6 separate regions of the Homo sapiens genome follow, and all the other regions are linked to region 1. The links come from fine-mapping of genetic effects on gene expression. A gene starts in region 1. Each other region holds a variant in brackets. All regions are shown on one strand. Distances are between the middles of the regions.

What was found.
Region 2: its variant is fine-mapped to the expression of FKBP15 in whole blood (GTEx, PIP above 0.99).
Region 3: its variant is fine-mapped to the expression of FKBP15 in whole blood (INTERVAL, PIP 0.94).
Region 4: its variant is fine-mapped to the expression of FKBP15 in whole blood (TOPMed, PIP above 0.99).
Region 5: its variant is fine-mapped to the expression of FKBP15 in whole blood (INTERVAL, PIP above 0.99).
Region 6: its variant is fine-mapped to the expression of FKBP15 in whole blood (INTERVAL, PIP 0.91).

What each region holds. Positions count from the first base shown.
Region 1 is chr9:113,218,981-113,223,069 of GRCh38, reverse strand. FKBP15 (FKBP prolyl isomerase family member 15) reads left to right here and starts at 1,793. Exons shown (of 28, transcript NM_015258.2): 1 at 1,793-1,879. The coding sequence starts at 1,827. SLC31A1 (solute carrier family 31 member 1) reads right to left here and starts at 1,526. Exons shown (of 5, transcript NM_001859.4): 1 at 1,392-1,526. RefSeq lists enhancers at 615-804, 1,645-1,754, 1,865-1,994.
Region 2 is chr9:113,170,329-113,174,417 of GRCh38, reverse strand. FKBP15 (FKBP prolyl isomerase family member 15) reads left to right here. Exons shown (of 28, transcript NM_015258.2): 23 at 813-965; 24 at 2,712-2,837; 25 at 3,789-3,896. Among named protein-coding and RNA genes, the nearest start is that of SLC31A2, 21 kb to the right of the region's middle. The variant G/T (reference allele first, on the strand shown) is at 1,846.
Region 3 is chr9:113,198,024-113,202,112 of GRCh38, reverse strand. FKBP15 (FKBP prolyl isomerase family member 15) reads left to right here. Exons shown (of 28, transcript NM_015258.2): 7 at 2,150-2,299; 8 at 3,190-3,258. Among named protein-coding and RNA genes, the nearest start is that of FKBP15, 21 kb to the left of the region's middle. The variant A/G (reference allele first, on the strand shown) is at 2,540.
Region 4 is chr9:113,186,005-113,190,093 of GRCh38, reverse strand. FKBP15 (FKBP prolyl isomerase family member 15) reads left to right here. Exons shown (of 28, transcript NM_015258.2): 13 at 1,603-1,705; 14 at 2,195-2,301; 15 at 3,731-3,845. Among named protein-coding and RNA genes, the nearest start is that of FKBP15, 33 kb to the left of the region's middle. RefSeq lists an enhancer at 1,360-2,559. The variant C/T (reference allele first, on the strand shown) is at 1,984.
Region 5 is chr9:113,157,095-113,161,183 of GRCh38, reverse strand. It overlaps SLC31A2 (solute carrier family 31 member 2), which reads right to left. Exons shown (of 4, transcript NM_001860.3): 2 at 3,391-3,457. It overlaps FKBP15 (FKBP prolyl isomerase family member 15), which reads left to right. Exons shown (of 28, transcript NM_015258.2): 28 at 1-178. Among named protein-coding and RNA genes, the nearest start is that of SLC31A2, 8.1 kb to the right of the region's middle. RefSeq lists a silencer at 3,060-3,261. The variant T/C (reference allele first, on the strand shown) is at 2,551.
Region 6 is chr9:113,302,498-113,306,586 of GRCh38, reverse strand. It overlaps RNF183 (ring finger protein 183), which reads left to right and starts at 3,211. Exons shown (of 5, transcript NM_001371237.1): 1 at 3,211-3,531. RefSeq lists an enhancer at 771-940. The variant A/G (reference allele first, on the strand shown) is at 1,909.

The DNA of each region.
Region 1 (4,089 bases):
TTTTTTTAAAGAAAAGGCTGGAAGGACATGTCATAAACACCTAGAAAGATTCTGCAGTGAGACTGCTTTGCAAGTGACTTTAAGTATTCATTCCATGTTAAAAATACCATAGATAATGTAAGCCAGGGGCTAGCAAGCTCTTTCTGTTAAACATTTAGATGTTTCAGTGCTGCAATCACAGTGACCGGTGTTGGGGAGAGGGATTAGAAAGTGCCATGGTACTTAATCCAGTTACTCCCCCAACACCTCCAAGAGGTAGCCAAGTTCACACACTAAACAGAGCTACTGCAACAGTTCTAGTGCTAGTCCTTAGATTCTAGTTCCAGTTCCGGTTCTAGTGCTTAGATTCCAGTTGCATCATTCCAACTGTGAGCCTTCGCTGCTTTAACATCTTTGCCAGGAGGTGCAAAGTTCTCTGGGAGGGAGCTACCAATCATTTCATTTCAATTTCATACTGACAGATTGAAACATTCACGTAAGGGACACCTGTAGTACCAACCTGACTGTGAGGGGAAGCCCAAGAACTCCAGTGAGTCTGTGGACGCTACGCTGGGACACTATCTCCTTAGCCACACCTTGTCTAAGCCAGGACTACCCCAGGATTGTTTCGAGAATGATACCAGGTTAACCAAAGAAATACTTATGTAAGATACAGATAGGGTGGAAACTGGAGGCAGAGGAGTCCGCCACAATTGATGTTGATTTAGGGCTGTCGCAGGAAGACCCAGGGAAACCCACGCCAAAGTTGGGGTGGGGATGTGTCTGCCTCCAAAGTATCCTCCTTTCCATCACCCACCGCCAGAATATCTTAGCTCTTCTGCACCTCATCCGCGTAGAATACAGGTGGACTCTAGAAAGGGGACTTTCCTCGAGGTGTATGCTACAGTCTTTCAATAGTCACTCTGTAAGGGCACACAGTGCTTAAGGGCTGATAAGGTTCTTGTTCACCCACTAGCTCACTATGTCCTGAATCAAAGGACGAGGAATCCAGTCTCAGTCTGCCCTTTACTCTTTGTGACCTCGGACTAGTCACCCGGGTGCTTAGTTCCTTCGTCTCCCTATCTGTAAATTCTGAGATTACGAGGAGGCCGGGATTGAAATCCATGGCCTCTGAGCTCTAAAATCTTCTGGACCAGCAGGCACATGGAAGAACTGGACAAATGGCCGGTTGCATACACGGGGAAACTGAGGCACCGAGCACCCCGGCCCAAGGTCACTCTGGCTATGCCACTGCAGGGGCCGGGCCGAAGCCCCAGTCTTTAACCCTCCAGTCCCGAGCTCTTTCTCCTTCCGCGGAGCTGAGGAAAGCGGCGAGGAAGGTCCTTGTCCCGCTGGGAAAAGGACGGTACCCATGCACAGGGGTGCGAAAGAGGGGCCGAGAGAAGCCTTACCTTTCCAGGTCAAGTCCAGCCACTAGCACCTCTCTCTCCGAATCTTAACCCGTCACCCCCTCACGACTCTTCGAACGGCCCCTCCACTTCTACCCGGCTCGACGTGTCCACCACCGCCACCGAGGCCGAGGATTTCCCGCCCCCTCCCGCCCCCTAGCATTACCGACCAATCCCTGCAAGGGGCTGTGAAGCTCCGCCCCGCTGCGGGCTGGAGAGGCCTGACGTCACTCGGCGCTCGTGCCCGCGCGAGCCTCTCATTTGCCTTTGCCCCACCTTCTCCAGAGCCCAGTCTACTTTCGGTCCAGAGACCGTGCTGGAGTTCGCCCTGCCGGAAAGCAGCACGCCGCCGCGGCATTTTACGACGTCGGCGGTGACAGGCCCTGGGACTCTGGGAATACCCAGCTTCCTCCCCGCAACCCGGTGAAAGCCAACGCAATGTTCGGTGCGGGGGACGAGGACGACACCGATTTCCTCTCGCCGAGCGGCGGGTGAGTGACTGAGAAGTATGCGCTGGAGGGCGTGGCTGAGAGATACCGGCGGATTGTTGGAGGGGGGTCGATCTCTTCTCAGGCCTTTTCCCAACTTCCGGGGGGAGACCCTTGCCACATTCCGGTGCTCTACACCTCTCAGAATCTGGGCAGAACTTGCAACTGTGCTGACCCTGCCGATCTGAGGTTCGGGACCCGGCATCTCTCTTGGCGGGAAGATAGCCCTGGGTTTGCCTTTTGCATTCTGGGTCACAATTTCTCCGGTGAAATGGGAATGATTGCTGATGAGACTTCCTGCCTCAGAATTTTTATAGGAGTCAGCTGGGGCTGATGTGAGACTTCTTTTCTCCATGGAGAAGGCGAAGACACTTTAGAACCAGGCCTTGGTGGGTCAGCTCTAGCATTCTTCAAGGCCCAGCTCGGATGTCACGTTTTGGATGCTTTTCCTTCTGCAACCTCAGGCAGAATGAATTGCTTTCTCTTCCTTATTCCTGCAGCTAGGTGTGTTTGCCTCTATTCTTATACCCCGCACCTATTAGATTATGAGTCCTCACCGGACAGGGACTGCTTATGGTGTTCATTTCTGTCTAGCATGCAGCATGGTACCTAGCACATAGTGAGTGCTCAGGAAGTGGCTGTTGAATGAATAATAGCTGCGAAATTGCACTTTGTAAAGCTTAAAGCTTAAAACCAACGTAACAGACTTCTGTCATTCTCCAGTTTCCCCAAGCATTATATTAATATATACCAGCCTGGAATAGAAATCTTTAAAGAGAGGAAGGGTTTTGTCTCTTTTAGTAGTCAGTTTAGCCTTTTCCATTGTGTTGTGCCAGTGGACAGCTTGACTTCCTCCAAACTTGTGAGCTACCAAGCTCTGATCATTGCAGAGCTTTTCTTTGAACATATGCTTAACAAATTTTGTGCGTGCTGAAGAATGTACTGGAAAAATGACAAATGCACCACATATGCCCCTTATTCTGCTAAATGCTAAGAGGTTACAAAAATGATTAAACTGCTGTGCCTGCCCTTAAGTTGCTTCCAGATCTGTTGGGCCATGTGGTTTCTATTGCAACCACAAATACTCAGTTCTGCCTTGTAGGGTGAGAGTAGTCATAGACAATACATAAACAAATGAGTTAATAGATGAATGACCATAAAATGACACTGGCCTTCTTTTGTCCTTAAGTAGGAATTTTTGATTTACACTGACTAGCTCTATATTACCTACCTTTTAGTCTTTTTCACTCTCACCACTCTGTTCCCTTCCTACCCCGTCTTTAGATGGCCTGCATTCACTTAGTTCCACTTTGAGTTCTTTCCGTTTCTCAGTTATTTTACAGTTAAGCTGTGCTTTTGTTCCTTTTTTCCCTATTCCACTTTAAATTCGCATTCTTCACTATGTGAAAGTATTTGGGAGAAGTCTGTAATGTTAGGGCTCCCAATTTTCATGCAACAATCAGTCCAAGCTGACTGAAAATTATGGGATAGGTAATGACAGCCATGTGCTCTTTTCCAGATTCCTGGCCAGAGATAAATTCTTGGTGGCTCAACTATTCTTTTTTCCTGAGCAGGCTTCTCAAGGATCTGAGACACTTGAATTCTAGGCATGTGACTGTGCTCCTAGACATAGACAACAGCTAATTTGATGGTAAAAGACATACTGAGGAAAGTTATAGTTTATTTTTGTTCCCCACAGTTATCAGGAAAACCAAATCAAATTTAACACTGAGAATACAGAAAGTTTCACCACAATTCTCTGATTTAGCTATTCCTTTTTTGGTTTTCTCTAAGGAAGTAGAACATATGACAGTGAATACTGCAGCTACTTTTCACTTCCTCTTTTATAGCCATATATTACTGTAAGTATACTTGCTTAAGTTCCAAGTCTCTTGATTTAAACACATGATTTGCTTGATTTCATGAAGGATATTCAAGCCTAATAGAAGTAGGAGTATCTGATAATCTGCCTTCTGAGTTTCTAGGCCTCTTAGAGTTTACTATTAATCTAGAAGTAGTAATCAGGAGCCTTGTTTTTGTTTGTTAGTTTGTTTTAGCCCATTCCTCACCGTTGTGGGAAGTAATAGTAATGAACTAATAGTACTTGGCTTCAGCTAATCCAGATAGGAATAAGGCACAGTTTCTGCCCCTAAGAAACTTTTATTTTAGTAGTAGAATAAAATCAATCCAGGAATAATAATCACAAAGCATTT
Region 2 (4,089 bases), 49 kb after region 1:
ACTGAAGCACTTTGAAAATAGAGGGAAGGTGTGAAGGACTCAGAGAGAAAAGCTTCTGGTTTCTTCCTTACCCTTTAGGATGACATTTCTCATAGCTGATACTCTCACTTTGGAGAAAGGTAGAAAAAGTAATCCAGATATGTGCAGGAGAGCCAGGAATCAAATGGAGAATCTTCTTTCTTTTTTTAAAGCTTAGTTAATATTTAATTACATAAGTAAAAATGAAAAATAGTTTCCTTACAAAAAAAATTCCAAACATGGTAAGGCCAAAACCATCAACCATTGGACACCATCCTTCAGGCACATTATCATCCTTGAAAAGAAGGGATTGATTTAGGTCATCAGGAAGGGAACCAGGGATAGTGGCAGGACACAGCTGGATCTCTAGTCTGTGCAACAGCAACCTTTCTCATTATAAGCTTAAAATTTATATGCATACATTTGTTTAATTAGAGTGCATTGGTGCCCTCAATTTGACCACCTCTGGGAATTTTGGTGAAAAAAAGTTTCTGAACCTATAAAGTTTAGGGTTCAGACCCTGAAAAGCAGTGATCACATGGCCCTGCCCTCCAGGGACCTATCTAGATAGGCACACTTTTGTCTGCTTGGAGTACCTTTTGGAGTCCTGACAACCAATGACATCTTAAGAAGTGCATTTATTTTAAAAGTAATGAGTCTTTTAAACAGTTTCCCAGTTAAATCTGGGCTGTTAGCTTATTCTTTTGCTTTTTGAAAGATGGGTTTCCCTAGGTGCAATGGAATCTCACTCCCCCACCCCCAAGGATGATATGGTCATTACTTTCTCTTGGCAGCTGTCTTTAGTACAGGCTGAGCTACAGACCCAGTGGGAAGCAAAATGTGAACATTTGTTGGCCTCCGCCAAGGATGAGCACCTGCAGCAGTACCAGGAGGTGTGCGCACAGAGAGATGCCTACCAGCAGAAGCTGGTACAACTTCAGGAAAAGGTACATATTTTTCTTGAGTCAGACAGTTTAGGCAGCCCAGTTAATTTGAGGCAAGCAGGCTGTTTGAGTCCTGTCGATCCTTCTAAGCCTGAAAGTTATTAATATCTAGAAGACAAAACCACACTTGTTTAGCTTGTCAGTTATCTTTCACATACTTATGTGGGGTGATAGGTCAGTGACCTGGAAAAAGAGAAAACAGCACTAGTGTTCCGGAACATGTTTCCCATTATTATTGGATCCTTCATTTATTAAGCAAATATTTATTGAGAGTCAGTTGTATTCCATCCAGTGTGTTAAAGGAAGTGCATACAAGGAACCCTTCCCTCATGTATCTCACAGTCAAGAAAGGGAGACAAAGAAACAAAGATAGGTGTTAAGTGCTATGGGGCCCAGAAGAGGAAGTACCCAGGAGAGCTGGGAAGGTTTCCCAAAGGTGGTGACATTTGAGCAGAGCCAAGAAGGACAAATAGCTTTGGTAAGGCAGCAAAGGAGGCAGAACATCCTGGGCAAAGGCACTGAGATAGGATGGAGGCTGGGGTGTGGTGGGATCATCAGGCCTGAAAAAGAGAGATGGGACATGGCTTAGGGTCATGGTGTGAAAGTCCATATTCGAGGTCAGTTTCTTTCCTTAAAGTGTCCAGTTGAAAACTTTTGGCTCAGAGATCTTGGAGGCAATCTTGCAGATGAATGACAAATGGGTTGCTGTTAATGCTGAATGTTTATGTCTAAATGACTAGTTATTACCTACCCTCCTGCTCTTTTTTCATTATATTTTTTACCTGATTGGGAACAAGGCAAGCAACCTTCTTGGGAAAGAGAAAGTGAAGTTTTGCGTTGAAGTCGAATGATGAGGAGATAGAACTCTCTGAGGCAGAGGGTC[G/T]TGGGTGGGGGCTGAGGGAGTGGACACCAGCAGACCTAGGCGAGGTTAAGACTTGATGTTTAGAGATTCTGGAGAGGATGTGGAGAAATAGGAACGCTTTTACACTGTTGGTGGGAGTGTAAATTAGTTCAACCATTGTGGAAGACAGTGTGGCGATTCCTTAAGGATCTAGAACTAGAATTACCATTTGACCCAGCAATCCCATTACTGGTTATATACCTAAAGGATTATAAATCATGCTACTATAAAGACACATGCACATGTATGTTTATTGTGGCACTATTCACAATAGCAAAGACTTGGAACCAACCCAAATGTCCATCAGTGATAGACTGGATTAAGAAAATGTGGCACATATACACCATGGAATACTATGCAGCCATAAAAAAGGATGAGTTCATGTCCTTTGCAGGGACATGGTTGAAGCTGGAAACCATCACTCCCAGCAAACTATCACAAGGACAGAAAACCAAACACTGCATGTTCTCACTCATAGGTGGGAATTGATCAGTGAGAACACTTGGACACAGGGCGGGGAACATCACACACCGGGGCCTGTCGGGGGTTGGGGGACGGGGGGAGGGATAGCATTAGGAGAAATACCTAATGTAAATGATGAGTTGATGGGTGCAGCACACCAACATGGCACATGTATACCTATGCATCAAACCTGCACATTGTGCACATGTGCCCTAGAACTTAAAGTATAATAATAATAAAAAAAAAGAATTTGAAATAAAATTGTCTTTTTATTATATGCAAAAAAAAAAAAAAGAGACTTGATGTTTGGGTGGTTCTCCTCCCCTTGGGTTTTCTGACCTTCACCTGGTTCCTGAGGCCACAGCCACAGTCTGTTTGTTTTGCAGTGTTTAGCCCTCCAGGCCCAAATCACAGCTCTCACCAAGCAAAATGAACAGCACATCAAGGAACTAGAGAAGAACAAGTCCCAGATGTCTGGGGTTGAAGCTGCTGCATCTGACCCCTCAGAGAAGGTGAGCTGGTATTTCAAATGAGAAGCAAGCCATTTATATCAAGCATTCAGAAAGAACATGGCCAGTATGTTGTGTTAATAGCTCTTTTTCTAACTTTAGTGATGTTTTACTTGTCTGATGACTTTAAAATGAACCAGATTTGGTGTTTGTTTGTTTGAGACGGAGTCTCACTTTGTCACCAGGCTAGAGTGCAGTGATGTGATCTTGGCTCACTGCAACCTCCGCCTCCCAGGTTCAAGCGATTCTCCTGCCGCAGCCGCCTGAGTAGCTGGGACTACAGGCACGCGCCACCACACCCAGCTAATTTTTGTATTTTTAGTAGAGACAGGGTTTCACCATGTTGGCCAGGATGGTCTCGGTCTCTTGACCTTGTGATCCGCCTGCCTCAGCCTCCCAAAGTGCTGGGATTACAGGCATGAGCCACCATGCCCGGCCCAGATTTGGTTCTTGAGTTTAAGGAGCTTACAGCCTAGTGGGAAAACAAACAAATACATACTTACATATTAAGTGGCAAACCCAAAAGAACCCTATCTTTCTGAGGTTTTGACAGGTATAGGAAGGGCCTCTAACCACAGAAGAAGAATGGGGCTTGGGGAGTGTGCCCAGCATCCACTGGCCTCTGACCCTTAGAGCCTATGGCAGCTCCTAGTGGTGCTCACAGTGGGAGGGGGACATCAAGAAATGGTCTTTAAGCAGTCTTGGGCACACAGACCACAGCTTGCCTGCCCTTGATAGGTAACTCTCATGACTAGCCCTTCTGTCAAAGTGCTGCTCATTATTTAATATCATCCTCTCCACAGTGACAGCCTTCAGTGTCTCTGCTTATGACCAGCAGTATCCCAGTGTAGAGATCTAAGATGGCTTCATTTTGGCCTTCCATACACCTCTCTGGAATTTAATGCATCCTTTAGTGACTTGATTTTGACAGCATGTGTTTTGATGTTCACACAGGTCAAGAAGATCATGAACCAGGTGTTCCAGTCCTTACGGAGAGAGTTTGAGCTGGAGGAATCTTACAATGGCAGGACCATTCTGGGAACCATCATGAATACGATCAAGGTACAGCCAGCCAGCTGTCATTTGTTTCATCGTATTGGGCATTTTGTTGCTTAAGTACCTTCTAAGGGATCATGAATAAAAAATTGTTCAAAGCTGGCACAGTGGCTTATGCTTGTAATCCCAGCATTTTGGGAGGCCAAGGTGGGAGGACTGCTTGAGGCCAGGAGCTTGAGACCAGCTTGGGCAACATAAT
Region 3 (4,089 bases), 21 kb after region 1:
AGATCAGCCTGGGCAACATAGTGAAACCCCATCTGTACAAGAAAAGAAAGAAAGAGAGAGAAAGAGATAGAGAGAGCAAGAAAGAGAGTTAAGTTACTACATACTCATTGTAGAAAATTTAGAAAAGCATTAAAAAAAATCACTCATAGTCTTACTACTCAAAGTAACCACTATTAACATATTTCCTTTTTTCTATGCATAATATACATAAGTAGATACAGTCCTTTAATAGTTCTTTATCATGCTTATTTTATTTAAAAATGTATAATTCATCTTTTCCTACCTCATGAAAAACTATTTGGAAACATTTTTGAAGGCTGCATAATATGCATGTTGTCAGTTCAAGCTACCGTAACAAATTACCATAGTCTGGTTAAGCAACAGAAATTTATTTCTCACGGTTCTCGAGGCTGAAAGTCTGAGATCAGGGTGCCAGCACGGTCGGGTTTTAGTGAGACCCTCTTCTGGGTTGCAGACTATCTTCTTCTTGTATCCTCACATGGTAGAAAGAGGGTGAGAGAGTTCTCTGTATCTCTTTAATAAGGTCCCTAATCCCATTCATGAGGGCTCCACCCTCCTGGCTTACTTACTTCCCAAAGGCCCCACCTCCTAATACTGTCACACTGGGAATTAGGATTTCAGTGTAAGTATTCGGAGGGGACACAAACATTCAGCCCATAACATTTGTTTCTTAATTGATGTAATCATTACCTTATGTTGTGCATTTAGATTGTTTTCTGTCTCTGCAGTAAATGATACCGTGGTGAGCATTTTTTATAGAAGTCTGTCCTTTTTTCCCCCCTACATATTTCCATAAGCTTTATTTCAGTAAGTGAGTGATTGGGTCAAAAGGTCCAGATATTTTTAGGTTCTTAATACACTTTGGCACACTGCTTTTCAGAGAGATTGTACTATTTCACATTTATATCAATTTTCTCATCGTACCTTTGCCAGCATTTAGAATGATCCTTTTTTTCTTTTGGTCTTCTTCACTTGGTTAAAAAAAAAAAAATGATGCCTCATTGTTTTTATTTGATTACAATAATGAAACTCTTTTTTTTTTTTTTTTTGAGACAGAGTCCTGCTCTGTCGCCAGGCTGGAGTGCAGTGGTGCCATCTCGGCTCACTGCAACCTCCGCCTCCCGGGTTCAAGCGATTCTTCTGCCCCAGCCTCCCAAGTAGCTGGGACTACAGGCGCACACCACCACTCCCAGCTAATTTTTGTATTTTTAGTAGAGACAGGGTTTCACCATGTTGGCCAGGATGGTCTCGATCTCTTGACCTTGTGATCCGCCCACCTCGGCCTCCCAAAGTGCTGAGATTACAGGTGTGAGCCACCGTACCCAGCCTCTGAAACTTTTTAAAAGAAAATGAGCCGCAAGTTCCTAATGGATACTATGTTAAAACACTGATAAAATTGGGTCTCAAATCCACATTTTTCTAAACTCATAAAGATCTTTCATACTATATTGCTTTTGAGGGCTTAATAATATTAAAACACAAGCCCAAGAATAATTATTCATAAATAGAATAGAATAATTATTCACAAAGATGCCCCTGACTCCTTTGTCTAAGATTTGTGCTAAGATAATATGGCCAAATCTGTAGATAGTATTGATGTGGATTCTGGGAATGCAACATGATTTTTTAAATGCCCTTCTTTCTACTGCAGTCTTTAGAAGTGCCTTCTGACGTTTTTTCAAAGCTCCCCTTTCTTTCCTAGGTTCCCAAACACTGAAACAGTAAATCAGTATCATCATCAATAGCTAATGTTTATTAAGTACTTACTATTATTTGCCAGGTACCTTGTCAAGTACTCTACTTATATTAGCTCATTTAATTTTCATAACCATCCTATGAGATTTGTGAAGCATCATCTCCATCTTGGGTACATAGAGATTATTTGGCTAGGGTCACAAAGTTAATAAGTGGCAGTGCCTGGATCTGTACCCAGACATTCTGACTGCAAAGCCATACTCCTAGGCACTTTGATCCCTGGCAAGATAACTGGCTTCCGTTTGGTTTACTTCTAAACATGTAATCTGTTTTGTTAGTGGATGAAGCTATTTGAGAAAGAGCAGTAGCAATAAAGGAATGAGTACTTATTGAGCTTAAACTACATTTATGCTGCTTTGATTTTGTCTTGCAGGTGTGCATTGCTAAGTGCAACAGTACCTCTTCCCTGGATGCAGTGCTCTCCCAGGACCTCATTGTGGCAGACGGCCCTGCTGTAGAAGTTGGAGATTCTTTGGAAGTGGCCTATACCGGCTGGCTCTTTCAGAATCATGTGCTGGGCCAGGTAAGAAAATGCACCCTGCAAGTTCTTTTGTAAACTTATATAGCATGAGGGCTATTCCCAGGGAAGATACTATTACTGTGAACGGCTGCTGTTGTCAAATAGAAATATTTTAGGATCCCCACTTTAGACACTGCAATTGCTTTGGGGGCATATTATGAAATGTGAATGTGTAAAAGATCCTCAGTGCCACCCTGTCACTTCTACTTAGGGAAAGTGGGAACCAATTTCCCCAGTACTATT[A/G]TTTTTGCTAGTTGTTCATGTGTATGTCTTGTCCTCCTATACCAGTTTTACACTTGAATATATTCTTATGGGATTAAGTCTTAAAACTTCTTTTTAGACCCTCCTTATAGTTTTTCTTATAGTAGATACTGTAAATACATTGAACTTACTGTGTTTTAATATTATTGAGCCCTTAAAAGCAATATATTATATGAGAGAAAGACCTTTAGACTATGAGTTTAGAAAAATCTGAATTAGAGATCCAATTATATACTAATTTGACTTTGATCAAGTCATTTATACTCTTATTTTTTTCCATTTGTGAATGGAGGCTAATGATCTTGCTCTGCTTACTCGGCAGGGTTAGTGTCAGCATCAAAATGAGATAATTTATTTGAAAGTGTATTGTGGATGAAAAATGCTTAAATACACAGTTGTAGTAATGTGTTTTTTTTCTAAACCTGGAAAATTACTGTTTCAGAGATATTCATTATAATACCCTTTAGCTATGATGTGGGCTAATATTTCAGGTCCTTTAGAAACTATCTTCCCAGTATATTTGACATTCCCTATTCCAGAAGTAGTGTGCTGGTATGTAGTTAGTTGAATATCATAATGGTTATTATTATTTTTGAAATTGGCTGGCCTAATTTCCTTCGATCAAATTGCAGGTTTTCGACTCCACTGCTAACAAAGATAAGTTGCTTCGCTTGAAGTTAGGATCAGGAAAAGTCATCAAGGTAAAGGCTTAACTGTGTTTTTTTATGGTTTTATCAGTTGCAGTGGGTTTAACTTAGATTAAATTTTGTGGAATTCCTTTTTTTATTTTATTTTTATTTTTTGAGACGGAGTTTCGCTCTTGTTGTTCAAGCTGGAGTGCAATGGCACGATCTTGGCTCATTGCAACCTCCACCTCCCAGGTTCAAGCGATTCTCCTGCCTCAGCCTCCCTAGTAGCTGGGATTACAGGCATGCGCCACCACACCCAGCTAATTTTGTATTTTTAGTGGAGATGGAGTTTCTCCATGTTGGTCAGGCTGGTCTCAAACTCCCGACATCAGGTGATCCACCCGCCTCAGCCTCCCAAAGTGCCGGGATTACAGGCATGAACCACCATGTCCGGCCTGTGGAATTTCTAATCAGGTTATCTTTTTGACATCTGGAAATGCCTGGATGAAGAATACGAGGGGAAAATGTGTTACATTGCATTTGGGAGATTTTTATCTATGAGACACTACATTGAAGATGGTTACAATTGTTTTCTGTAGTCCTGACCTTTTCTTTTCCATTCTATGACTCTGAGAATATTATTTCATCCTTCCTATAGCCTAACAGGGGAAAAAGTGAGACAGTTTCTTCTCGAAACTTATCATAAAGGGTTGAATCTCATCTGTCTGGATTGCTTTGAATCAGCACTTTCCAATCACTGTAGAAGGCAACTGTGACAGCAGCAGGAGGAGCACTGGGGTTGAAATCCGAGAACTTGGGTTCAAGTTGTGAATTTTTTCTTTATTAACTGTGCAGGTGTTTTATAAAATAAAGAATGTTTTACACATGTGGTATATTATGGTG
Region 4 (4,089 bases), 33 kb after region 1:
ATGTTGCCTATCACTAAAGCTCCAACTAGTATGTCTTTTGACTTTGTATGTGGTATTCTTGTGTTTGTTTTCTATTTAGAAGTTCAATAATTTTATTGAATTCAAGTCTGTCAATTTTCTCCCCTTGTTATTTGCTTTTGACATTATGCTTAGAAAGCCTCTCCACTTTCAGATTATAAATATCACATGTATTTTTAAAGATATTGATCAATATTTTATAATTAGATCTAAATTTTTAATCCATTTGGAATTTGGTGTATGCTATAAAGTAACTTAATTTTAACTTAATTCTTCTCTAGTGGTTAGTTCTTTATTGAATATAATCGTCCTTTCTCAATTGAAGTGAAATATATAACTTAGACTGATTTTTAGTATTCTTTTACTTTGATAGAAAACAAGGAAAGGGCGATGGTCTTGAAAAAATTTTTTCTGGAATATACTTTATATTTTACATTTTTGTTTTATTTCTTGGAAAAGCTCTATGTAGATTTAACATCTTAAAGGAAGATAGGATTTCTGAGGCCTATTGTTATAGGATTATTTTTTTCTGGTCTGGAAATGCAGTGTAAATAAGAATATTTTTATTAAAAATTTTATGTGCTACTTATTCATTTTAGAATAATTTAAAATTATAGAAAAGAAACATATTGAACAAAAAGGGCATTCATCTTTATATATTGCTTTGTAACCTGATTTTTAAACCTAATGTTGTATCATAAACATTTACATTAACATAAATGATTTAAGTAAATAAAGTGGTTTAAAGGAAACCCAGTGTTCCATTATATCATTTTATTATAATTCCTTTCACTCTGTTATTAGACATTTAGGTTGGTTAAGAGCTGTAGAAATCTAAAACTGGGATGTTTTTCTAGAAGAGAATATAAGGGGACAAGGTGAAGTTCTAAAGTAAAAGAATGTCTGAAACTTTGGTCTTTGAACTATAGCATAGCAGATTACAGTCACTGTATATTGTGCCTCAAGATTTTCTGTTTCTTATATGAAGCAGGAGGTAGAATAACTTTGTTTAGAGTTATAGCTTTGATTTTATGAAAAGCTTTGGTTTTATGAAAATAAAGAATGTTGGAAAAACATCCTAAAACTATATTATCCAAAAACAGCATGTTAATCAGGTGCAGTGAATCCTACGTTATCTGATTTTCATTGAGTACCTTGAGGACTATGGGGATGATTTGTAAGAAGCGAAGAGGCTGGATTATTTCTTGCAAAAGACCACTTTTTTTGTGGGAATAGATTAGATTTGTCTTAAGGCAGTTACTGGCTTGGAAAATGATACATTCTGAAGAGTGGTTAGTTTAGCTGCTTCAGACAATAGAACATCAACCTCTGAGAATATTTGTGGAAATTAACTATATTTACTTATTCAATATGATTATAGGGAGAAGGACTCTTACTTTATTGCATAGCAGAGTGCTTTTTCTCCACAACCCACACCCTCAACTCTTGGCCTTCCGCTTACCTTTCCTTCCTCTTCTTTGCCTAGAAATCCTGTGTTGGAAGCAGGTTTAGGGCAGACAGTCAGCCTCAGTCTTCAATGAGGGACCCCGTACAGAGTAACCCAAACGCTTGTTCCTGTTTCAGGATGTGAACACTCTGCAAGGAGGTGGGCAGCCTGTGGTGACTCCGTCCGTCCAGCCCTCTCTTCATCCGGCCCATCCAGCGTTACCACAGATGACCTCACAGGGTAAGGAACCTCTCTGAGGCTCTGTGGCCTTGAACTGGGTCAGCATGAAAATTATCGTCACTGTTCCTTAAACTGTTAGGCTGCATTGTTTCAGTACTGAGGACTAAAGTGTAAATGTAAGAGTGTGACGCTTGTCAGTTTGTCCCTGGGTAAGGCATTTTCATACCCAGAGATGGACCTGGCTGCTGGTTGTGACTTCTGCTGTGTTGCACTGTCAGTTTTGGAAATCTGCACTCAGCTATTGAGACATCTCCCTGGGTGTGTTCTGCACTTCCTGT[C/T]GGGTGGGATCCTAGGGCTGAGTCAGAAGCACATGAGAGCACCCAGTTTCCTTCCACTGGCTCATTCCTGAGATTGCAGTAGAGCTGAGTGTAGGGAGACTAGGCAAGGAAAATAGTTGAGTCTGAAGCATGATAGTATGTAAGGTGCTAGTCTAGACTCACACCAAGAAGCAAGGGTGGATAACAGTGAAAATGTCTCCCTTTATCTTAGCACCTCAGCCATCTGTTACTGGGCTCCAGGCACCTTCTGCTGCCTTAATGCAAGTGTCATCTCTCGATTCCCACTCAGCTGTATCTGGAAATGCCCAATCCTTTCAGGTAACATTTTATAACCGTATTAATTATATCCTATAATTTGCTGTGGTTCTAGTCAGTCTCTTTTCTTCTTCCTGTACATTTCATACAGTAGCAGTTCCCCAAAGTCAGAGTTTGTAATTTTTTTCCCTTCCTTGGTTACCACTTTCTCATCTCTAAACCAGGCAAAGGATAACCTACGTTCCAGTGTCATAAAGATTAAATGCAAGAACAAGTAGAGCCCCTAGTACAACGTAGTAAAGATGCAATCAATGTTTGTTTCCTTTTCTTTTCACACATATCCAGTTGAAGCGTGTATATTCGCGTTCTTCTGTATTCTTTTCTACTAAAAGTTGGCAGGCTAACATTCTGCAGTATATTCAGCAGAATGGTATGGTTTAAAAGTGGAACCATGTGGAAAATGTAGCTTGACTCTGCTATCTAGTAAACTTTTCTTAAAGAAGGCCTTTTTCCTGTTATCACAGAAAACAATGGCAGCAGCCTGTTTGCCAGGGGTAGCAGACCCTTTCTTCTGCCTCAACACACTTGGTGGATAAGGCATACTGTCACTGGGAACAGCTGCTCACTCCTTGTGATGCTTAATGGAGGTGTGGGAATGATGGTGGATAGGCTATGCCTCATTAACATGGGGAGTCTCGAAACTGGAAAAAGTCCCACTGTTGCCCTCTTTCTCCCCATCCCTCCTCTCCTCCATGGAGAATTACTATGCTGTAGACTAAGAATTTTTTTTAAGTGGATGCGTAGTTATATCTATCCCTGGAAATGAGCTAGACTTCCTTATTTCAAGGAAGAATTACCATCCTCATTAAAATAAAAGCTGCTGTTTATTAAGCGCTTACTATCTGTCAGGCCTGTAACTTACTAGCTTTTCAGAACTTTACCTATCTCACTTCATTTAGTCCACAGAACAGCCCTATGAAGTGATATTATTATCTTCCTCTTACAGTTGAGGTGACCGAGACTCAAAGGAACATGAGAGCTCTTGGTCTCGTGGATTAGCTTCAGAATCTAGCAGGGGAGAGGCATCCTTGGAAATTGGCAGATTTGGTTTGGAATCTCAGTGAGCACTTCTTCTTTAAACTCAATGGAAGCTAAGCAGAGTTTATTAATCTAAAAACTTCTTAGACAATAGGCCTGATAATGGGGAATGAATCCCTGCTTAATTATCTCACCAGATGACTGGGTAGTGACCTAAGATACACTTTCTTCAGTTTCTGGGTAGGATTTTAGTGACTGGTTTCCCCTGGGATACATAGATAACTCTCCTGCTGCAGTCCTTACCAACTGCCAAACCCAGATCTCACCCATCTCTAGCTTCAGTAAGTTTGAGTCTCCTCCCAGCTCATCCACTTTATTCCACCAAAGAAAAATGTGAACAAAAAAGAAAGACATGAATGTTTTATCAACCAGTGGTAACTCGTCAGTTTCTCAGCCCTATGCAGGTATGCAAGCCTACGCTTATCCCCAGGCATCTGCCGTCACCTCCCAGCTGCAGCCCGTTCGGCCTTTGTACCCAGCACCGCTCTCTCAGCCTCCCCATTTCCAAGGTAGGGAGTAATTCCCTCAGTTTCTCATCTTCCGCTCTTGCTGTGCTTTCCCTCTTCTTGCTCCTCCTTCATTTTCACACCAACAGCTCTCTACTCATTGTTTCTTCTCTTTTTTAACAGCTTTGTTGAGATATAATATGTATTCCACACATTCATTCATTTTAAATGTGCAATTCAAAAGTGTTTTAGTAAATTTGCAGAGTTGTGCATTCATCACTACAATCCTATTTTAGAACATTTCCGT
Region 5 (4,089 bases), 62 kb after region 1:
ATATGTAAGTATGCAAAAAATGTCTGGAAGGAAAGATAAATAGCACAAGAGTAATAGTTATCTCAGCAAAGTAGGATACAGGTGGTTTTTATGTTCTTGCCTAACTTTCTAAGGTTTCTTTTATATATATTACTTTTATAATAGGGGAAAAACCCAATAAATTATTTTACCAAAACTATCAAGTGCTTATTAGAGCTGCTGTGTAAAATTAACTGTTAATTACTACTTTTGTTTCACTAAGAGGGATAATAAGTGGTCCAGCTAAAGTATTTTACTGGACTCTGCGACATAATAAGAGATATATATCCTGTTTCTGCCCTGGTTTCCTGGCACACGACTTCTAGAACCCTTGGAAACGCTGTCAAGTGGTGTCTTTTTATATGCTAATGAGATGACTGATGGCTGAGGCTCCTGGATGGGGGCTGGTTGCCAGGGGAGCCAAACTTGTGCTTGGAGGTTGGCACTTTCAGCCCCACTCCCTACCTCTGGAAGGAGACAGGGACTGAAGGTTGAATTGATCACCAGTGGCCAATGAGGTCATCAATCATTCCTCCATATGAAGACTCCATAGAAACCCAAAAGAATGCAGTTTAGATAGAAGGAATAAGTTGTTGTATTCGACAGTACAGTAGGGAAATTTATAGTTAACCATAATTTATTGTATATTTCAAAATAGAATTGTAATGTTCCCAACACAAAGATAAATGTTTGAGGTGATAAACACCCCAGTCACCCTGATTGGATCATTACATATTGTATATAGGTATCAAAATATCACGTGTACCCCAAAACATGTACAACTATTATATATGAATAATTTTTTTTAAAAGGACAGGATTTGAAAAGCTTCCAGCTGCTGTGAACACATGGGGGTACCTGGAAGGTGGCAAGCCCAGGGAGGGCCTGGAGGCTCTGAACCCCCTCCTACATGCCTTGCCCCATGCATCTTTTCCACACAGCTATTCATTGTACTTTTTTTTTTTAGATGGAGTCTCGCTCTGTTGCCCAGGCTGGAGTGCAGTGGCGCAATCTTGGCTCACTGCAACCTCCACCTCCTGGATTCAAGCAATTATCTTGCCTCAGGATTCAAGCAATTATCTTGCCTCAGCCTCCCAAGTAGCTGGGATTACAGACACCCCCCACCACGCCTGGCTAATTTTTTTGTATTTTTAGTAGAGACGGGGTTTGACCATGTTGGTCAGGCTGGTCTTGAACTCCTAACCTCAGGTGATCCACTCGCCTCGGCCTCCCAAAGTGCTGGGATTACAGGCATGAGCCACCACACCTGGCCCATTTGTACTCTTTTTAAGTGTTTCCTTGAGTGTTGTGAACCATTCTATCAAATAATTGATCCCAACAAAGGCGTTATGGGAACCCTGACATATAGCCAGTTGGCCAGAAGTACGGGAGACAAGCTGGGACTTGCAATTGGTGCCTGAAGCAGGGGGCAGCCTTGTGGGACTGTACCCTTAACTTGTGGGATCTGCACTAACTCTGGTTAGTGTCAGATTTGAACTGAGTTGTAGGACACCCAGCTGGTATCAGAAAAGTTGTCACTGAGGGAAAGCCTACACATCTGGTCACAGAAGTGTGTGGAGCGTAGGAAAAGGAAAAAGTTGGGTTTTTTTTCCCACAGGCTCCCAGGAGGAAATCATCTGACAGATGCAGGTTTTTAAAACATAAAATTATAGGTAATTTCATGTACATGGTGAAACTTCAAACAGTGCAAAAAAGAATACAATGAAAATTCAGGCCGGGTGTGGTAGCTCATGCCTGTAATCCCAGCACTTTGGGAGGTCGAGGTGGGTGGATCACTTGAGGTCAGGAGTTTGAGACCAGCCTGGCCAACGTGGTGAAACCCTGTCTCTACTAAAAATACAGAAAAATTAGCTGGGCATTGTGGTGCCTGCCTGTAGTCCCAGCTACTCGGTAGGCTGAGGCAAGAGAATTGCTTGAACCTGGGAGGTGGAGATTGCAGTGAGCCAAGATCGCGCCACTGCATTCCAGCCTGGGCGACAGAGACTCCATTTCAAAAAAAGAGAAAGATCAGTTTTCTTCCCACCCCAATCTCTCTTCACCCCAATTCTCCTCCCCAGAGCAACCTCTGTTACTCAATGTATATATCAGCCTCTGTTTGTCCAAATGACAGCATCCTATCTACGCATACTGTTTTGCATTTGACTTTATCATCCAGTTTTACCTCAGTTCACACAGATTTACCTTTTCCCCAGTGGCTTCATCGTATCTGTGATAGATTACATTTTCCAAAGACAGCCACTCCAATGTATCCCACCCCACATCCCCTTCTTATGATGTCAACACTCCTGCCATCAAGTGGTGGGGTCCATGTTTGTTCCCTCTCCTTTAGCCTAGGAAGACCTTCGTGACTGCTTCAGCCAATAAAGGTAGAAGTAATTTTATCTGATTTCCAAGGCTAGGTCTTGAAAATCCCACGTACTTCTACCTTGTTCTCTTGCGACACTCGATCTTGGAATCTAGCCACTCTGCCACGAGGAAGCCCAGGCCATAGGAGATGCCACATGTAGGTGT[T/C]CAGCCAACAACTCCAGCTGAGGTCCTAGCTAACAACCAGTATCAGCCACTTGGCATGAGAGTGAGGAACTCTTCCAAATGACCCTACTTCCAGCCACTGTTTGACTATACTGCATGAGAGACCTTCAGTAAGGACCACTCACCTGGGTCCAGTCAACTCACAGAACCTTGAGAGAGAATGATAAAATGACTTGTTTTAAGCCACTGTTTATTCAGCAATAGATAACAAGAAATAGTAACCCATTGTAGGGCTGACCATAATTTATTTAATCTGCACCCGCAATAATGGGCATTTGGGCTGTTTCCAGTCTCTTTTTAAGATGCAGTTATTTAAGTTGAAAAATAACTTCTTCATGAATTAGTGACAAACTCTGCCTTTTCAAATCAAAGGAATATTCTTTCCTTTCAAATTGGTGTCTCATCTCCAGCAGCTGCTGTGGGCTTCTGAACTGGTGCAGAACAATGAGCCCTGGATAAGGGAGGTGCCAGGTGACACCCGGAGGCCTTGATCTAGTAGTGGCTCTGATGCGTACTTACTGTGTGACCCTGCACGAGTCTCTCTTCCTGTCTCTGGGCTTTAGTTTCTTGCCCTGTAACAGAGGGAAAAGCTGCCTCCCTGCCTCTCGGCCTTTGTGAGGATCAGTAAGATAATGGAGCCCTTTGCGATCTGAAGGGGAGTGGTTACAAATGGAATTATAACTGTGAAGTTCCTGCTCAGTGTTTATGCCAGAGGAATCAGCCTCACTTAAATGCCCACAGAGAATCAAGAGAACCCAGATTCTCCCTTGCCTAGTACTACAAGGCTTTCCAAGCTACAAGTCTGAGGTCCCCAATTCTTACCAGCAGGACTGTGGACACTCCAGAAATCAAACAGAAGCACCGCTGTATCTGAGAAGATGAAATGCATCTGAAAGAGAAAGGAATCTGCATCATAGGGGCACAGGGCAGTGGAAGTTACGGTCCTTAATGCTCTCCAGCACCTCCTCTGGGAGCCCAGAAAAATGGGGTCACTGGAAGTGCTGGAAGGGCCATCAGAAGTCATCAGGGCCAACTGAGGCCATAAAGAGCTGAGACTTGCCCAAGAGGGTCAGCAGCAGAGCTATAATTGAGCTGGCCATGCTCCATATGAGAATAGAGGTGTGGGAGTGTCCATCCTCACTGGACCAACTGGCTCGGGATGTGACAGTGTCCTCAGACTATGTGGGGATGTCCCCTCCATGCCTTCCAAGTGCAACTGCCTCTTCTTACCCCCCCGGGACCCTAGCCATTCTGCTGCAGCTCCAGAACAGGCTCCCGTGTGATGGAAGCCTGGAGTCCTCTTTGTCCTGTTCAGTCTAGACAGATCCCACAGTGTTTATCGTGGAGGGGCCCAGAGGCAGCTGTCTTCACTGTACTCCACATCTGCCTACTCATTCACTATACATTTGCTGAGCCCAGTTTGTGTGCCAAGCATTATGGAAGTAGGTTAATGTCTCTGACCTTGGTGAGTTCACAGCCTTACAGGAAAGACTGCAGGTAAAAGCAGTGACCATGCAGTGC
Region 6 (4,089 bases), 84 kb before region 1:
TTCTCCCTCTCTTTTCTTCTTTTCTTTCTTTTTTTCTTTTCTATCTTTCACAGGGTCTTTGCTCTGTTGCCCAGGCTAGAGTGCAGTGGTGCAATCTGGGCTCACTGCAGCCTTGACTTTCTGGGCTCAAGTGATCCTCCCACTTCAGCCTTCTGAGTATCTGAGACAACAGGCATGTGCCACCACGCCCAGCTAATTTTTTATTTTTTTATTTTTTGTAGCAATGGGGTCGCTAGTCTTGAACTCCTGGGCTCAAGCAATCCTCCAACCTCGGCCTCCCAAAGTGCTGGGATTATAGGCATGTGCCCAGCCAACATGCACCGTTTTTTTGTTTTGTTTTGTTTTGGTTTTGGTTTGTTTGTTTGTGTTTTTTTTGAGATGGATTCTCTCTCTGTTGCCTGGGCTGGAATGCAGTGGTGCAATCTCGGCTCACTGCAACCTCCGCCTCCCAGGTTCAAGCGATTCTCCTGCCTCCTTAGCCTCCCAAGTAGCTGGGATTACAGGCACCTGCCACCACGCCCAGCTAAGTTTTTTTTTTTTTTGTATTTTTTAGTAGAGACGGGGTTTCAACATATTGGCCAGGCTGGTCTCAAACTCCTGACCTTGTGATCCGCCTGCCTCGGCCTCCCAAAGTGCTGGGATTACAGGCGTAAGCCACCGTATCCGGCCAACATGCACCATTTTTAAGCTGCTTTCCCCCTCCATTTACAGTATACTGTGACCATTTTTAAAAGTCAATGAAAATCTTTCTATATCATTTTAAATGATTATGTAGTTTTTCACCTAATTGATGGGGTTTTGGAGTGTTTTCAATCATTTGTGATTAAAATAAAACTGCAATGAATATCCTCACTCAACCAAAATATATCTTTTTGATGCTTCTGGGGAATTACATGATTAGGTCAAAGTAGATGAACTTCTTTATGTTTTCTTATGTTGCCAAGCCAGAAAGCGTGACTTCCAAACTCTCAAATACAAACCAGGTTCTTTGGACTAAATCAGTGTCTCGAATCCCCAGTAACCTCAGTTAACCAGTAGTGACACCGAAAAGCAGGGAATTCCAGAGCTGAGAGGAACTTTGAGGCCATCGGTGATCATATACCTCGTCTCCAGCTCAGAAAGAGGAGAATTACTTAGACATTTTCTTTAGAGATCTAAAACTTCCCAAAGTCCACAGTTTTATTTTCACACAATTCTAGGCTAACTTAAAATCAGCATTTTTGCATTATTCTTTCATTCAATATTTATATATTTATAATGAGGGGGTTAGATCAATAGGGGATTGGTGAAGTGATTTATGGTACAGCCATTCAATGAAATCTGATACAACCATTAAAAAACCGAAGAAGGTCTTCTTTTTTTTTTTTTGCTCTGTCGCCCAGGCTGGAGTGCAGTGGTACAATCTCAGCTCACTGCAACCTCTGCCTCCCAGGTTCAAGCGATTCTCCTGCCTCAGCCTCCTGAGTAGCTGGGACTACAGGTGTGCACCATGACGCCGGCTAATTTTTGTATTTTTAGTAGAGACGGGGTTTCACCATGTTGGCCAGGCTGGTCTTGAACTCCTGACCTCAAGTGATCCACCCGCCTTGGCCTCCCAAAGTGCTGGGATTACAGGTGTGAGTCACAGCGCTGGGCCAAAAACCGAAGAAGGTCTTTATGTACTAATACAGAATGATATCTCAAATACATCATCAAATGAAAAAAGAAAAATGCAGAACAGTGTACATAATATGCACATTTGTGTAAAAAGGAGGTAAAGGAATACATAGATGTTTTGCCATGGACATGCTGTTTGTGTATGTATAAAACATCTTTGGAAAGATACACAACAAACTGATAGTATAATACTTTGATTTCCAGGGAAACTAGGTGGCTGCGAAGAGACAGTTTTCACTGTGAAATCAAACC[A/G]TTCACATGCTCAACCATGTAAATATATTACCTATTTAAAAATCAAATGTGGGCACGGTGGCTCAAGTGTAATCTTAGCACTTTTGGCAAGTGGATTGCTGGAGCCCAGGAGTTTGAGACCAGCCTAGGCAACCTGGAGAAACCCCATCTCTACAAGAAATACAAAAATTAGCCAGCCACGGTGGCATGCACCTGTAGTCCTAGGTACTCAGGAGGCGGAGGTGGGAAGACTGCTTGACCCCAGGAGGTTGAGGCTGCAGTGAGCTGTGATCGTGCCACCGCACCCCAGCCTGGATGATAGAGTGAGACTCTGTCTCAAAATAAATCAATACATAAAAATTAATGTAAAAAAACACAAAATGCGGGGACTAGGGCATTTGATTACATCACCAAGCAGATACATTTATTTACTTGTTTATTTCTCAAGTATGGCTGAAAATGTCAGTAAAGAAATAAGGGGCCAGGCGCGGTGGCTCATGCCTGTAATCTCAGCACTTTGGGAGGTCGAGGCAGGTGGATCACCTGAGGTCAGGAGTTTGAGACCAGCCTGGCCAACAAGGCGAAATCCTGTCTCTACTAAGAATGTAAAAATTAGCCGGGCATGGTAGCGCGCACCTGTAGTCCCAGTTACTCGGGAGGCCGTGGCAGGAGAATTGCTGGAACCAGGGAGGTGGGGGTTACAGTGAGCCAGTATCGCCCCACTGCACTCTAGCCTGGGCGACAGAGCAAAACTACGTCTTAAAAAAAAAAAAAAAAAAGAAAGAAAAAAAAAAAGAAAGAAAGAGAGAGAGAAAGAAAAGAGGACCATAGGTACAAAAAGAATTTGAGCGGGAACAAAAGATGGGCCACGTGAACAGACCGGTTATAACAATAATAGTTCTGGTTAACATTTAGCGAGTTACTGTCTGCCAGGCCCTGTGTTATTACGCGATCTCGACACGTATTACCTCATTTAATCTACAGATCAAGTAGGTAGGTTATTATGGCCATTTTCAGGTGAGGAAACTGAGGCTGGCAGAAGTTAATTAATTTGCTCAAGTCTCCATCGGTAGTTAAACGGAGTTTGGATTCTCAGTGAGGGCTGAACTCTGACCTAGAAGTGTGCCTTGCTTGAGAACCCTGGCTCTTCAGGCAGACGCTCAACCGTCTCCCGACTATTTTTCTGCTGTATTAGTGGCCGCTTTTGTCAGTATTTTGCAAGAGCTATCTGTATTTTGGTTACAGGGACTCAGCATAGGGAAGGATCCATCTCGGCAGAAGCCAGGAGTCGAGGCAGGTCAGCGCACAGAGGACAGTGGAATCCGAGGGGATGGCAGGAGATCAATCGGACCCAGAACAGAGGCCTGCAAGGATGAGCGCACTTGATCCCCTCAGAGAAAAAGCCAGAGTGACTCACAGGAGAAAGACAAAGCAACCAAAGCTTCCAGGGTGTACAGGAGGTCCAAAGTCACCAGAAGGAAGAAGAAAACCTGAAACAGCGAGAGCTGGCCAAACGCTGCTAAGACCTATGCAAATAAGACCCACCCACGCTACCTGGAAATCGGGCCTGGGAAGTCAGAAAACAAAGCACATGCGTGCAGGGCTGCACGAACGGAGGCGGAGGAGGCGGCTCCGAGGGAGCAGGTAAGGAGACAGAGAGGGTCGCGGAGGGACGGGTCACAGGGCTCCAGAGTCCAGAGAGGCAGCAGCCGTGCAGCGCGCGACAGGTGAACTCTGGCCTGGGAGGGCAGGCTACTGGGTTCATCTTTCAAACTCAGCCACTCTTTAGCTGGGAAGACTTCGGCAAGTTGCCTCACCCTTCTGAGCCTTGGCTTCCCCATCTAGAAAATGGGTCTAAAAATAATCATGCTAACTCTGTATTGAGCGCCTTCCGTATTCTACTGGGCACCGTATAGACTATTCCTTCCCCAGAGCAACCTTGTAGGAGTGGGATGATTAGCCTTTTTTACAGAGGAAAATGAAGTTCAGAGAGGTTAAGCCATTTGTCCAAGACAAATTGTTCCAAATCTGGTTCCAAAGCCGGCACCTTTCTACTCCCCATTCAGCCTCTCTCACAGGGTGGTTTTAGAGTATCAAATGGCTTTCTGCAAACAACAACAAAAAATCCCAAAAGGCTAGTAACCTATCTAGATGGATCACCACACTTAGATCTTAGCAAGGGCCAGGGCCCTTTGTAAACTG